Regions from separate parts of the Homo sapiens genome. Here region 2 is linked to region 1. The links come from fine-mapping of genetic effects on gene expression. A gene starts in region 1. The other region holds a variant in brackets. All regions are shown on one strand. Distances are from middle to middle. Region 1 holds the start of DCP2 (decapping mRNA 2). Region 2 overlaps DCP2 (decapping mRNA 2).

Evidence for each region. PIP is the estimated chance that this variant, and not a neighbour inherited with it, causes the effect.
Region 2: its variant is the best candidate, but not a certain one, in a credible set for the expression of DCP2 in lung (TOPMed, PIP 0.75).

What each region holds. Positions count from the first base shown.
Region 1 is chr5:112,973,439-112,978,817 of GRCh38, forward strand. DCP2 (decapping mRNA 2) reads left to right here and starts at 3,360. Exons shown (of 11, transcript NM_152624.6): 1 at 3,360-3,548. The coding sequence starts at 3,496. LOC105379126 (a long non-coding RNA gene) reads right to left here and starts at 1,347. Exons shown (of 2, transcript XR_948679.3): 1 at 1,260-1,347. RefSeq lists enhancers at 2,851-2,900, 2,931-3,010, 3,026-3,785, 3,321-3,370, 3,441-3,530 and 2 more.
Region 2 is chr5:113,018,478-113,023,856 of GRCh38, forward strand. DCP2 (decapping mRNA 2) reads left to right here. Exons shown (of 11, transcript NM_152624.6): 11 at 1-3,718. It overlaps MCC (MCC regulator of Wnt signaling pathway), which reads right to left. Exons shown (of 19, transcript NM_001085377.2): 19 at 3,629-5,379. Among named protein-coding and RNA genes, the nearest start is that of DCP2, 44 kb to the left of the region's middle. The variant AG/A (reference allele first, on the strand shown) is at 3,228.

The sequences.
Region 1 (5,379 bases):
TTAAAAAAATAATTAGCCAGGCCTGGTGGTGCGCACTTGTATTCCTAGCTACTTGGGAGGGTGAGGTGGGAGACTGAGCCCAGGAGTGAGCTATGCCACTGCACTCCAGCCTGGGCAACAGAGTGGGATCTTGTTCCAAAAAAAAGACTAAATGAAATAGCATATTTTAAAACTATAAAGGTTTTAATCAACCTAATTATTTAAAAATCAAATCAGTATTATAATTTAAGAACCCTAGCATCTCCTGTTCTCCTGTTACCTCAACTCTAAGCTCCCCTTTGTCATTCTCAGCTGGGTCCTGTGAACAATTAGATGGAATTGAGGCCTTGGTGTCCCTATTCACTTTAACAGGGATGGCACTAGGTTCAAGAGGCTGAAGAAGAGACCCAGAGCCAGCAAATGAGGCATATGGTTTATTGAGAGGAACTTGCATACAGAGCGGTCCACTAGAGGTGAGCTGGACATGAGAACAACATCACCTGCAGAAAGCATGCAGTTTATATAGCATTTTCATTTTGCACCCTCTCCCTAACAGCTTCCACCTGACAACTTTCATTTAGCCCAAAACAAAGGGCCTAGCCCTCCTGTGCAGCCTGCATTCCACAGGGCTCAGATGTTCCTCATAGATAAGGAATGAATCTTGGTTGTAACTGCAAACTCATTCAGGTTGTCTGCCACACAGGGTCATTCCCCTGGGTCTGCTTACGTTACTGCTGTCAGGTGCCTCTACCATACAGTTGGCTTCTTTGGAAGTCATGGCTTGGGGGGCTGCTATAAGGGTTGCACTAGTCCAGCTCCTGGAAATCTGTGTGTGAGGAGGCAGTGGAGGGATGGGGCATGGGCAAGATAATATCTTGGACCACAGACATCTCAGAAACTCTTAATAAGGCAGATTGGTTTAACACCATGTGAGAGTTTGGGGACTTCCTGGCCTCTAAGAGCCCAAAAGGGGTTGTATAGCTGCCCCTAAACTGGGAGACTAGAAAGCTAGTAAGAAGAATTCCTCCAGGTGCTTCAGCAAGTGCTTGGTAACCTGCTTGTTTCTATTAATATACCATTGGCCCATGTGGGTGAGCACCACTTTGCCTTGAACTGTTGTTCCACTGCCATCATTTAGAATACTCTAAAAACTAGACTTGAGCTCTAAGTGAGACAACTAAGAAAACCACTATGGTGCCTCCCAGTCAGAGAAAAGACATTCAGTCAGAACAGGTAGAATGCACACCCAGCAAAATAGAACTGAAGGGGCTCACTCTTACCTTTACCAATCCATCCACTACACTGGCTGGAGGTCCAACTGCTAGTATCTGCATTTCTTTGCCGTAGGACTTTTTCTGGCCACCAGAGCCCATCTTGCTGCCCATGTAGCAGGCTAGAGTGCAGACCCCAGGAGCTGCCTTCAACCAATGAAGGAAGTTGGTATATAAATCCCCATCTCCCTCACCCCTTGAGTGGGATAACTCTGAGGTATATGTTTTATACTGGCCACCAGAGTTCTCCAGTGACAGTAAGCTCCAGTTAACCACAGTGCTAATTTCCTTGATAATAAACCTTTTGGCTTTCCTCCCCTCCTTGACTCACTTTCCTGCTCTCCTACCAATGTTTCCCAAGATCACCTCCCTCACAGGCTATCTGCACTCAAAATCTTGTCTCAGTGCCTGCTTCTTAGGAAATCTAAAATAAGACTTGGACTGTGCTGGGAGTACTGAATAAAGCAAATGGAATACTGCAGCCTGTGCTTCTGTACTGGACTCCCAGAATACATGAAGCTGTGCCTGGAAGCATTTTCTCTTTAGGGAATTTCATCAGCAGAAAGAATTACGTACAGATACTGATACCATGTGTTTCCAACCAACAGCTCAGCCAGATCATCCTACAGTGAAGCTCTCAGGAAACAAGTACCATCTACAAGGTGAGAGCTTCCAATTAGCTTTCAAGGCACTTGACTCCAGGTTAAGGCCTTACTCTTAAGTGTGAGTGAATAGTCAAGGACTACAGAGGCTTCTAATAGGATAGATGAGATCAAGATAATAGCAAAAAGCAGCTGAGAGGAATAAGACTACTCAGGGAGAAGAAAACGTCAAAATCTATTATTAATATCCTCAGAAGGATAAAATAAAATATACAAAGCAAGAATGTGACACCACAAGAAAGGGGCATTTGAAGAACAAAACAGAACTCTAAATAAGTAAAAACTCTGTAGTTGTCAGGAAGATAAATTTGAGGAATTCTCCAAGAAAGAGGGGAAAAAAAAGATGGAAAACGGGAGCAAAATAGATGGTGACGGGCCTCTTATGCCAAAGGAACTTGGGCTTGATCATACAGCAGAAACTGAAAAGATAACTTGTTCCTATCTGAGTAAAACAAAACAAAATGTAGGCAGTTGCACAGGCCAAGAATGGAGGCAGAGTCAGTGGTTAGGCAGCTCTCACTGTAGTATGGAGAAATGATGCAAAACTGAAGTACACAGTGGCATGTGACAAATTTAGACAAAAGATGGGAGATTAAATGGTAGAACAGACTAAACTTGTGACGGAGCAGGTGTGTGTGGGCCTGTGGGTCTGATGTAAGAGGAAAAAGAACAGATGGATCTAGTTTCTCCAAAGATCCCAAATGGATTGGTCTCCATTAAGCAAGACGAGGAATGAATAAGGACGAGCAGGTGGGGATTGCTTTGTGCAGAGGGTGGAATACAGATCAGAGTTCAGCTTAAATCAGTATTTTCTAAGATTTTGCTAGGTGCCAGATACTGAGATAAAGTCCTTGTCTTCATGTTTGGAACCAGGTGCCTAAGGAAGCACAGAGGAGAGCCACCTCCAAAATGGATACCCTCTCCAAGGGTTTGTAGTGAAAGAGGCACAGCTCTTGGCCTGGAGTTGGTGGGGGCTGCGATAAGTGCAAGATACTTGGTGACAGGAATCGCGAGCATACTCTTGTGTTGTACGGATTCTCAGGGTCGGCCCTGCAGAGGAAAGAGCTCAGTCACCGCGAGGTCCTGCACAACATGCCAAAGTCCCGGATATGTGTCCGGGGTCTACACCTAAGCCCCGACCCCTCTGAACTTCCCAGAAGCGCGCAGGAGGCATGGTGCGCATGCGTGTAGCCACCTCAAAGGCGGCGGGAAGTTGGTTTTCTGAGTAGCAACTGAGCAGCTTGAAGACGGATTGGAAGTAGCAGACCAATAAACAAACGTCTCATTGGCTTAGAGTGCTTAGAGTCCCAATTCTTCAGCTTCCCATTGGGCCTTTCAAGCGAGCAGGGGCGTGACTCCGGGGGCTCCGCCCCGAGCCTTGGCCCAGTCTTGGGGTCCAAGGCTGAGGGAGCGGGACGGAAGTGAGCGGGTCCCGCCCCTTCCCCTTCTCGTCTCCGTTGGAGTCGTCTCTGCCGCGGCTTCCTCGGCTGCCAGCTCTCCGGCGAGCCGGAGTCCTAGTGCCGTACCGTCAGTCCCCGGCCGCGCGGAGCCGGGATGCACTGTTCCTGCTGTGGGTCCTCATCATGGAGACCAAACGGGTGGAGATTCCCGGCAGCGTCCTGGACGATCTCTGCAGGTACCGCGCTACCCGACCCCCTTTCGCCCCCGTCGGGTTTTCTCAGTTTCGCGGACCCCCAGAGGCCTCTGGGTCTTCTTCCCCGCCCACGTCCATGTCCTCGCTTTCCGCTCCCGCCGCTGCTCGCTTTCCATCGTCGACCCTGCTCTCCGACGACACCGCCCCTCTTTCCGCCGCAGCCTCCCTGTTTCTCAAGGCCCTCCGTCCTTCCCCGCAGAACACCCGGAATTTCCTCATTTTTTAAGTTACTCAACTATTTTGCTTTCCCGCAGGCGTAGCCGCTTCGCCGGAGCCTGGGTCTTAGCGTTTTGCCGCCGCCGCCGCCTCCCTCTCCCATTGTTTTTTCTGCCTCTGTGACTTTTCCACGCCGTGCACCCCCTCCTCCCTGTGTCTCATTCCCCGATTCTGAAGGAAGACCCCCAGGGTAGTAATTTAAGGCTTAGGATCCCAGGTACGCGGACCTGCGCAAGGAGCAAATTTTCGGACTTATTCTGACGCCTGCGTGTTATTTGTCCGTGGCGTTCTCTGTAAATTCCTGTAAGGAATTACTTTTTTTTTCTCATCCCTGGACTTGTCTTTGGGGGAGAGAGGGAAAAAGTGTAGCGCTGCTTTTCTTTTTATCCTTAATAATCCTATTTTAAAGGAAATTCTCAACCGCGGGGTTTTAACTCAGGGTGTATACTTCAGATGAGAAATTTTCTGCATTCTTCCCCCTTGTCAACTCTGATTTCAGATAGCCAAACACGTGTAGGATACTTAAAAATGCTTATTTTCCGAAGGTAAAATTTGGAGTGCAGTGATACCCGGAGTTGTCGCCAAGTGTGTGTGGATTGTGATTACAAGTGATAACACCTTTTCGTTCACAGTTACTGTGTTTATGTTTTAAAAGGCAGGCTTTTAGTAGTTGTATCTCCTTCATGCAGTTTTTTTTAATGGAAAGTAAAGAACTGGTGTTTGTGGAGTTTTTTGGGGTTTTTTTTGTTTGTTTGTTTTTTTGTTTTTATTTTTTGAGACGGAGCCTCTTTCTTTTGCCCAGGCTGGTGTGCAGTGGTGCGGTCTTGGCTCACTGCAACCTCTGCCTTCCGGATTCAAACGAGTCTCTGCCTCAGCCTCCCTAGCAGCTGGGATTACAGGCACCCGCCACCACACCCGGCTAATTTTTGTATTTTTAGTAGAGACGGGATTTCACCATCTTGGCCGTGCTGGTCTCGAACTTCTGACCTCGTGATCCACCCGCCTCGGCCTCCCAAAGTGCTGGGATTACAGGCGTGAGCCATCGCGCCCGGCCTGGAGTTTCTACTGTGCACCAGGCACTACCTTTACATGTATTGTTTTATTTAATCCTCAGTCAGCCGTGTTTGGTAGGTGCAGTTAGTATATTTCCATTTTCATCTGCGCAAACAGATTCAGGAACTTTGTAATTTACATAAGGTCACATTCATCCTAATTCACAAAATCAAGATTTCACACCTATTCCTTTTTCTTTCCAGTGCCTGTGCTTTTTCTCTCATACCAAGGAGAAGTAATAAGCCTAACGTTTTAAACCTCACAAAAGTACATACAGAAAAGTAAATAGCCTAATTTTGCAACTAATACAAATGGCGCTGTACTTCTTTGGTGATGGTAGATTTATAATTTTTGAAGTATGGTAGATTCAAATGAACCACTGAAAAGGCATTTAGTTTCTTGTCCCAAATAAAAAAAAAAAAAGGAAAAAGAAACTGAATTTGATATGTGTATGTGGGTTAATGACTAGACGCACATCAACCAATAGTGGGATTATGAGATTGTGATCTTTATTTTTTGTTTCCAATATTTTTTATGCATTTTA
Region 2 (5,379 bases), 45 kb after region 1:
GGTAGTATTGGTCAAAGGTACTCTGAAGAGTGAATGCAGAAATCAGTTGGCTGTGTTTGTAATCTTGTCCCACATGGACCCTAACCTTTAGTAGACTTCAGTCTTTTAGTCCAGTAGAAGACAATGGCCCTGAATATGTGTTTTCTGCTTTTTGGTGGAAGGTTTCCTGCAGGTGGTTGGGTGGTTTTTGGGTTATTGGCTACTGTTCGTTCAGTGCCATTTGAAGACCTGTTGTTTCTTAATCCTTTTTCTTGGTGTGACTGGCCAGGAAAAAGTCCATTGAGTCCTTTTTTTCTCCCTGGTGTCTTACCCCTTCTGTAGAATAATCCATATTTTAAAATTTGTTTCACATCTTTATAGCAAACCTGCCACAGACTTGCAAGCAGTGATTTTATCTTTCCTTCCTGAGAAGGTGATCTCACTTTTGATGTTTGGGTCACCTGTGGACACCTGTGCTCTTTTGAGTCTCAAGGCTTATAGCTTTCACATTGGCTTGGGAACAACAGACTTGTGTGTGGTTCTAGAGTGAAATGGGCAGTGTTCTGCTGGTCCTCAGTCTTTGAGAGGTCTTAGGCAACATCCTTAGTATAGTGGAATTTCTGAGGTCAAATTTAACATTTAATATATTCTCCTTTTAGTTCATTGAATCTGAGGTTCTAAATCTGTAGCTTCATTTTGAGCACAAGTCTGCATTGTCATTTTTTAAGAGATTGGCAGGCATATCCTTTTGTGATACTTAGGAAAAGACTATGGATGGCAGCAAATGAAAGTAAAGGTTCTCAACTGTGAATGAAATTTAGAAAGATAATTCTTCAGCAGTTGGTTGATTAGATGGGTTAGTGCTTTTGGAATATATAACAGTAGACTTGTATTCTTTATGCACTATACATATGATACGCACTGACAGAAAAGCACAGAAGACATACTGCTAAGAGTTTCTTTGTGCATTTCACTACTGTTCTAGGGGACTGCTGTCTCTTTGGTTCCTTTTAGGTTTGTGTTAGGATGTTGCACAAGTAATCATTTAATGTTAAATGCAAGTGTCCAAAGAAATGAGTCTTAAAGTTCTTTGGTCATATTTCACTTTAGAGTTAGGACAGGAGACAGCTAACCTGACTTCCATTTTACAAATATTAGAAACTTTTTCTTCAGTAACAAAAACAGGGAAGGACAATAAAACCATGAACTATTTTGCTTTATGTCTGTTTTTAAAAAATAATTGTTTTGAAGTTTGCTTATTAGCTTAATACCTTATAGTACTTTTAAAAAATCATCCTTGGTAATTATTGACTTATCCTAGATCCATGTACAATTCAGACTTTTATCTGTTAGCTTTAATAAAAATTTAAAACCATCTCATTTCAGAATAAAATAAACGGAATTACAGTTCATGCATTAGCATTTTTAAGTGAAGTTCTCTTAATAAGATTGCCTTTTGTCTAACCGAAATAGGGCATACAGATTAGTTTGGATGGGAAAGTGGTAAGACTTGACTTTTTAATACTGTGCCTATTTCCAAAAGAAGACTTGATGTGGCTTTTTACATTATGCTTTAAAGATGTTAATGGAGGATACATAGTCTTAAAACAATTTGTTTGGGAGTAAGTTTTAGTCGGAAAAAGGTGAAGATATTTATGCTGAGTTATGTTAAGCAAATTATTTTGAGACCTTTTGCTGGTAGACAAAAACTGAGGAAATGTTTCACTAAATATATTATGGTCAATGAAAAAACCAGACTTTAGAGTAAATGTGATAACCAAGTAGATTTGTGAACTTTATTTCTTTAGTAATTATTTTTATCTTATGTGAAATGATTCAACCTTTAATTTTTGCCTAGATTATAGCAATGTTTTGTTTTACCTTATAGGGCATTTTAATGCTTGGAGAAAGACTATAAGTGAATCTACTTCAAGGGATTCTGTTCATGGTGGTATACAGTTCTTGGTGCTCTTTTGGAAATTGTCAAACATTTACTGATAGCAGAAAAGGAACCCCAAAACACCTGTAGTGTTCACCTTGTTATAAGAACAGAAACATTTGGAACAGGTTTCATTCTGTTTCTAGATTTATGTTGTTGTAGTTGAACAGCAACTGTTTTTTTCCCTCAGTGTTAACGAAAGGATAAAGACTACCTGTATTGTTGGGTATGACTATCAAAGGATTTCCGGTGATTCATGTTTGTGAATTGGAGTTTAAATGTTTGCAGGATTACTGTACTTCCAAAGACCCACTAGAATGTCAGCTGTACTCTGTACTCTCCACTGAGAAAATGAACAAAATCCTATGTCTTAACAGTTATGCTCTAACTTTTTGAAAGCTTTTTGATGTAAATAATAGGTTAGAAACTAAAAGCCTTTTAATCTTACAAAATACAATTTGAACGATGGAAGGTTGTTCAGATACTGGCTTTCTGTAAAAACATCATTGTGTTAGATTGTTTGTAATGTACTATCAATAAAATTGGCTGCTTGGGCGGTTTTAGTTACCACCTTAGCCTGGTTTTCTGCTACTGTTATTTATCATCGTAGGTTCTGAGTTGCTCATTGTGGTTGCTCTTTGGACCAATAAAAATGGCAAGTATGAGATGAACATGATAAAAGTATGTTTATATAACAGGAAGAAGCTGGGCGCGGTGCTCATACCTGTAATCCCAGCACTTTGGGAGGCTGAGTTGGGTGGATCACGAGGTCAGGAGTTCGAGACCAGCCTGACCAACATGGTGAAACTAAAAATTCAAAAATTAGCTGGGCGTGGTGGTGCGTGTCTGTAGTCCCAGCTACTTGGGAGGCTGAGGCAGGAGAATCTCTTGACCCCGGGAGGCAGAGGTCGCAGTGAGCTGAGATCACACCACTGCACTCCAGCCTGGGTGAACAGAGCAAGACTCTGTCTGGAAAAAACAAAAAACAACCAAAAAAAAAAAAAAAAAACCCCCAGGAAGAAATATTGTCGAGAGTCTCTGCAAAAATGAAAATACCTCAAACAATTAAGTTTGTTGCTTTAAAGCAAGATTATAGTGTAGGGCTTGAGATGTGAATTCATTAGATATTTAAAATCCAGCAATTCTTAAGTTTGTGCTAGAATCAGGTTTTGCAATAGGAATACTTAACTTTGGATCTCAAGGGGGAAAGAAATACATTCTTTTCCATTAGAGACCTCAGCTATATGATAGTAACTTTTATTTTAAATTCTCAAAAGGAGAGTGACTAAGGTGTTATACTTACTGTCAA[AG/A]TTACTTTGCTTCCATAGTGAAAACTTGAGAACATTGTAATCTTTCTCTAACAGATGTGTTGCAAAGCTGCTTGCCATCTTGTTGTCCTATATGACTTCCTTGCATTTCCAGTCCTTGATTACATTCCATTTTAATGATCTTTCTTTAAGAGGGGAAAAGACTCTCTTCAATAGATAACTTCCTATTTATGCCAAATTTTAAAAAGCCAACTAAAAATGGGCTATAAATGAGGGTTCTTTGGCCATTTTGATCTAATAATAGTCTTACTTCTAGACCCCTGCTTTGACTAGGGCTCTTGATTTCATGTAAGCATCATGGATTTGATATTTGCCTGCATGTATATCACAGTTCTACAGAAGGATAGCCTTACCCTTTAAATAACACAGTTAAGGTACACTGTGGAATTAGAAATATTTATTCAGAATATAAGAATGTTTGTAAAATATTATAAATGTCTCTGTATAAATAAATGGAGTTTTTAAAAAACAATTCTATATCAAATAACGCAAAGTAGCTATTTTACAGCAGCTAAAACTAAAGGCATCTGGAAACATTTAAAGAATACAAGTGGAGAATCTAAAAAATTACAAGGTATAGTACAGTGTTAAGTAGCAATTTTAAAATGAGACTTTCAGTACAAACAGTAGAACAATACTGACAAATGCAAACTTAGTCACATGTGCTTTAATAACTGACAATACATTCAAGCAGGTTTTTCTAATTCAAGTGTATAGCACATATTCAAATAATAGGAAACAAATCTCATGCAAAGTAAATAAATCTTGATGTCTAAAAACTGATTAGAACTAGAAAAGAAGTGGACATGTTTTATTATCTTTGCATTACGTTCTAACAAAAGCAGATTATCAGGGGCTCTTACTCACTTGCCATTCCTGACATGAGCACTATAAGTGAATACTATGAGTTCTACAAACAGAACATTTTTCCACATGAATTTGACTTGCAAAAAGTGCAAAAGGGAATGGTAGAACCAGAATTACTAAGTACGGCATCAGTGTGAATGTGGGGGAAATTTGTGTATAACTTGCTTTGTTCTGCTGAGCTGATATTTCACCTGATTAGCAGATGGATGACTGTGGAAAGATGAAGTACTAGTCAAGGATGTGGTTTTACATAGCAGTTGCTATTTCCGGGACTGAATGATTTCTTCCTCTTGGTCACATGCAAAATCTCACCCAGATGTAATGTGATAAACAAACAGTTTACCCAGTGTAACCTTTAAGCAAAAATGTATGGTGATCTGCATGTGAAACTGTCTTTCTCTACACAGGTATTAGCAAAACAAGAATACATGAACAGCTGCTATCAACTTGTATACTTTTTTTCCACTTGTTTATATTTTAACAGCCACTGAGAGATCAGTGATGCTGTGGTGACAGCAGTCAGCATTATTTCTTAGAGAATACAAATGTATTAAGTTAGAGTAATTTCAGGTGTGTTAAACAGGAGATGCTTCTGAAGGCCACAAGTTTGGAGCTTACTTTAACCTGACCTACATGAACATAAGATTTGTAGGATGTGGATAAACTTTAAGAACTGGATAGTGAAGGCGTAACTTTTGTTTTGTAACCAGTTACGCCTCTTCTGTAAACTCTATAAGAGTGCTCAAAGGTGAATCAAACTTGTATATCATTCCTTGTCAAATAGGCTGTTCCCACTGGATAAGAAAATTTGCTGTATGTTTTCCTGAAAAATTTTATAGTGTTCTACAAAGCCATCACCTTCTGCAGAAAAAAAATGTTACTTATGCTCCACCTCCCCAGCCCTCACTAAAAACTTTGGTAGCCCTATGGCGGTACCCTAATTAAGGTCAGTGCAGAAATCTCAACCATTACAGAAGTCTCTTACTATTTTGGCTCTCAAAATACTCTAACTAGTAGCTCTGTTTGCTGAATCTAGAAGTAGGTAGAGCTGTAAATAGTTTAATAGAATGATTGGGACATACTCCCAATTAAGAATTTGCAAATTGTTTAAAGCCTTATGGAGGAAAGGACACTTTCAGAGATGTTTATTTTTTAATAGTCATCTTGATATGTTATCACTTTAAAGCTTGATAATCGAAACTCTTGAGAGCTATTAAGGTTGACTGATAGACTTAAAAAGTGATTGCTTTATAATTCTCGTGGGCC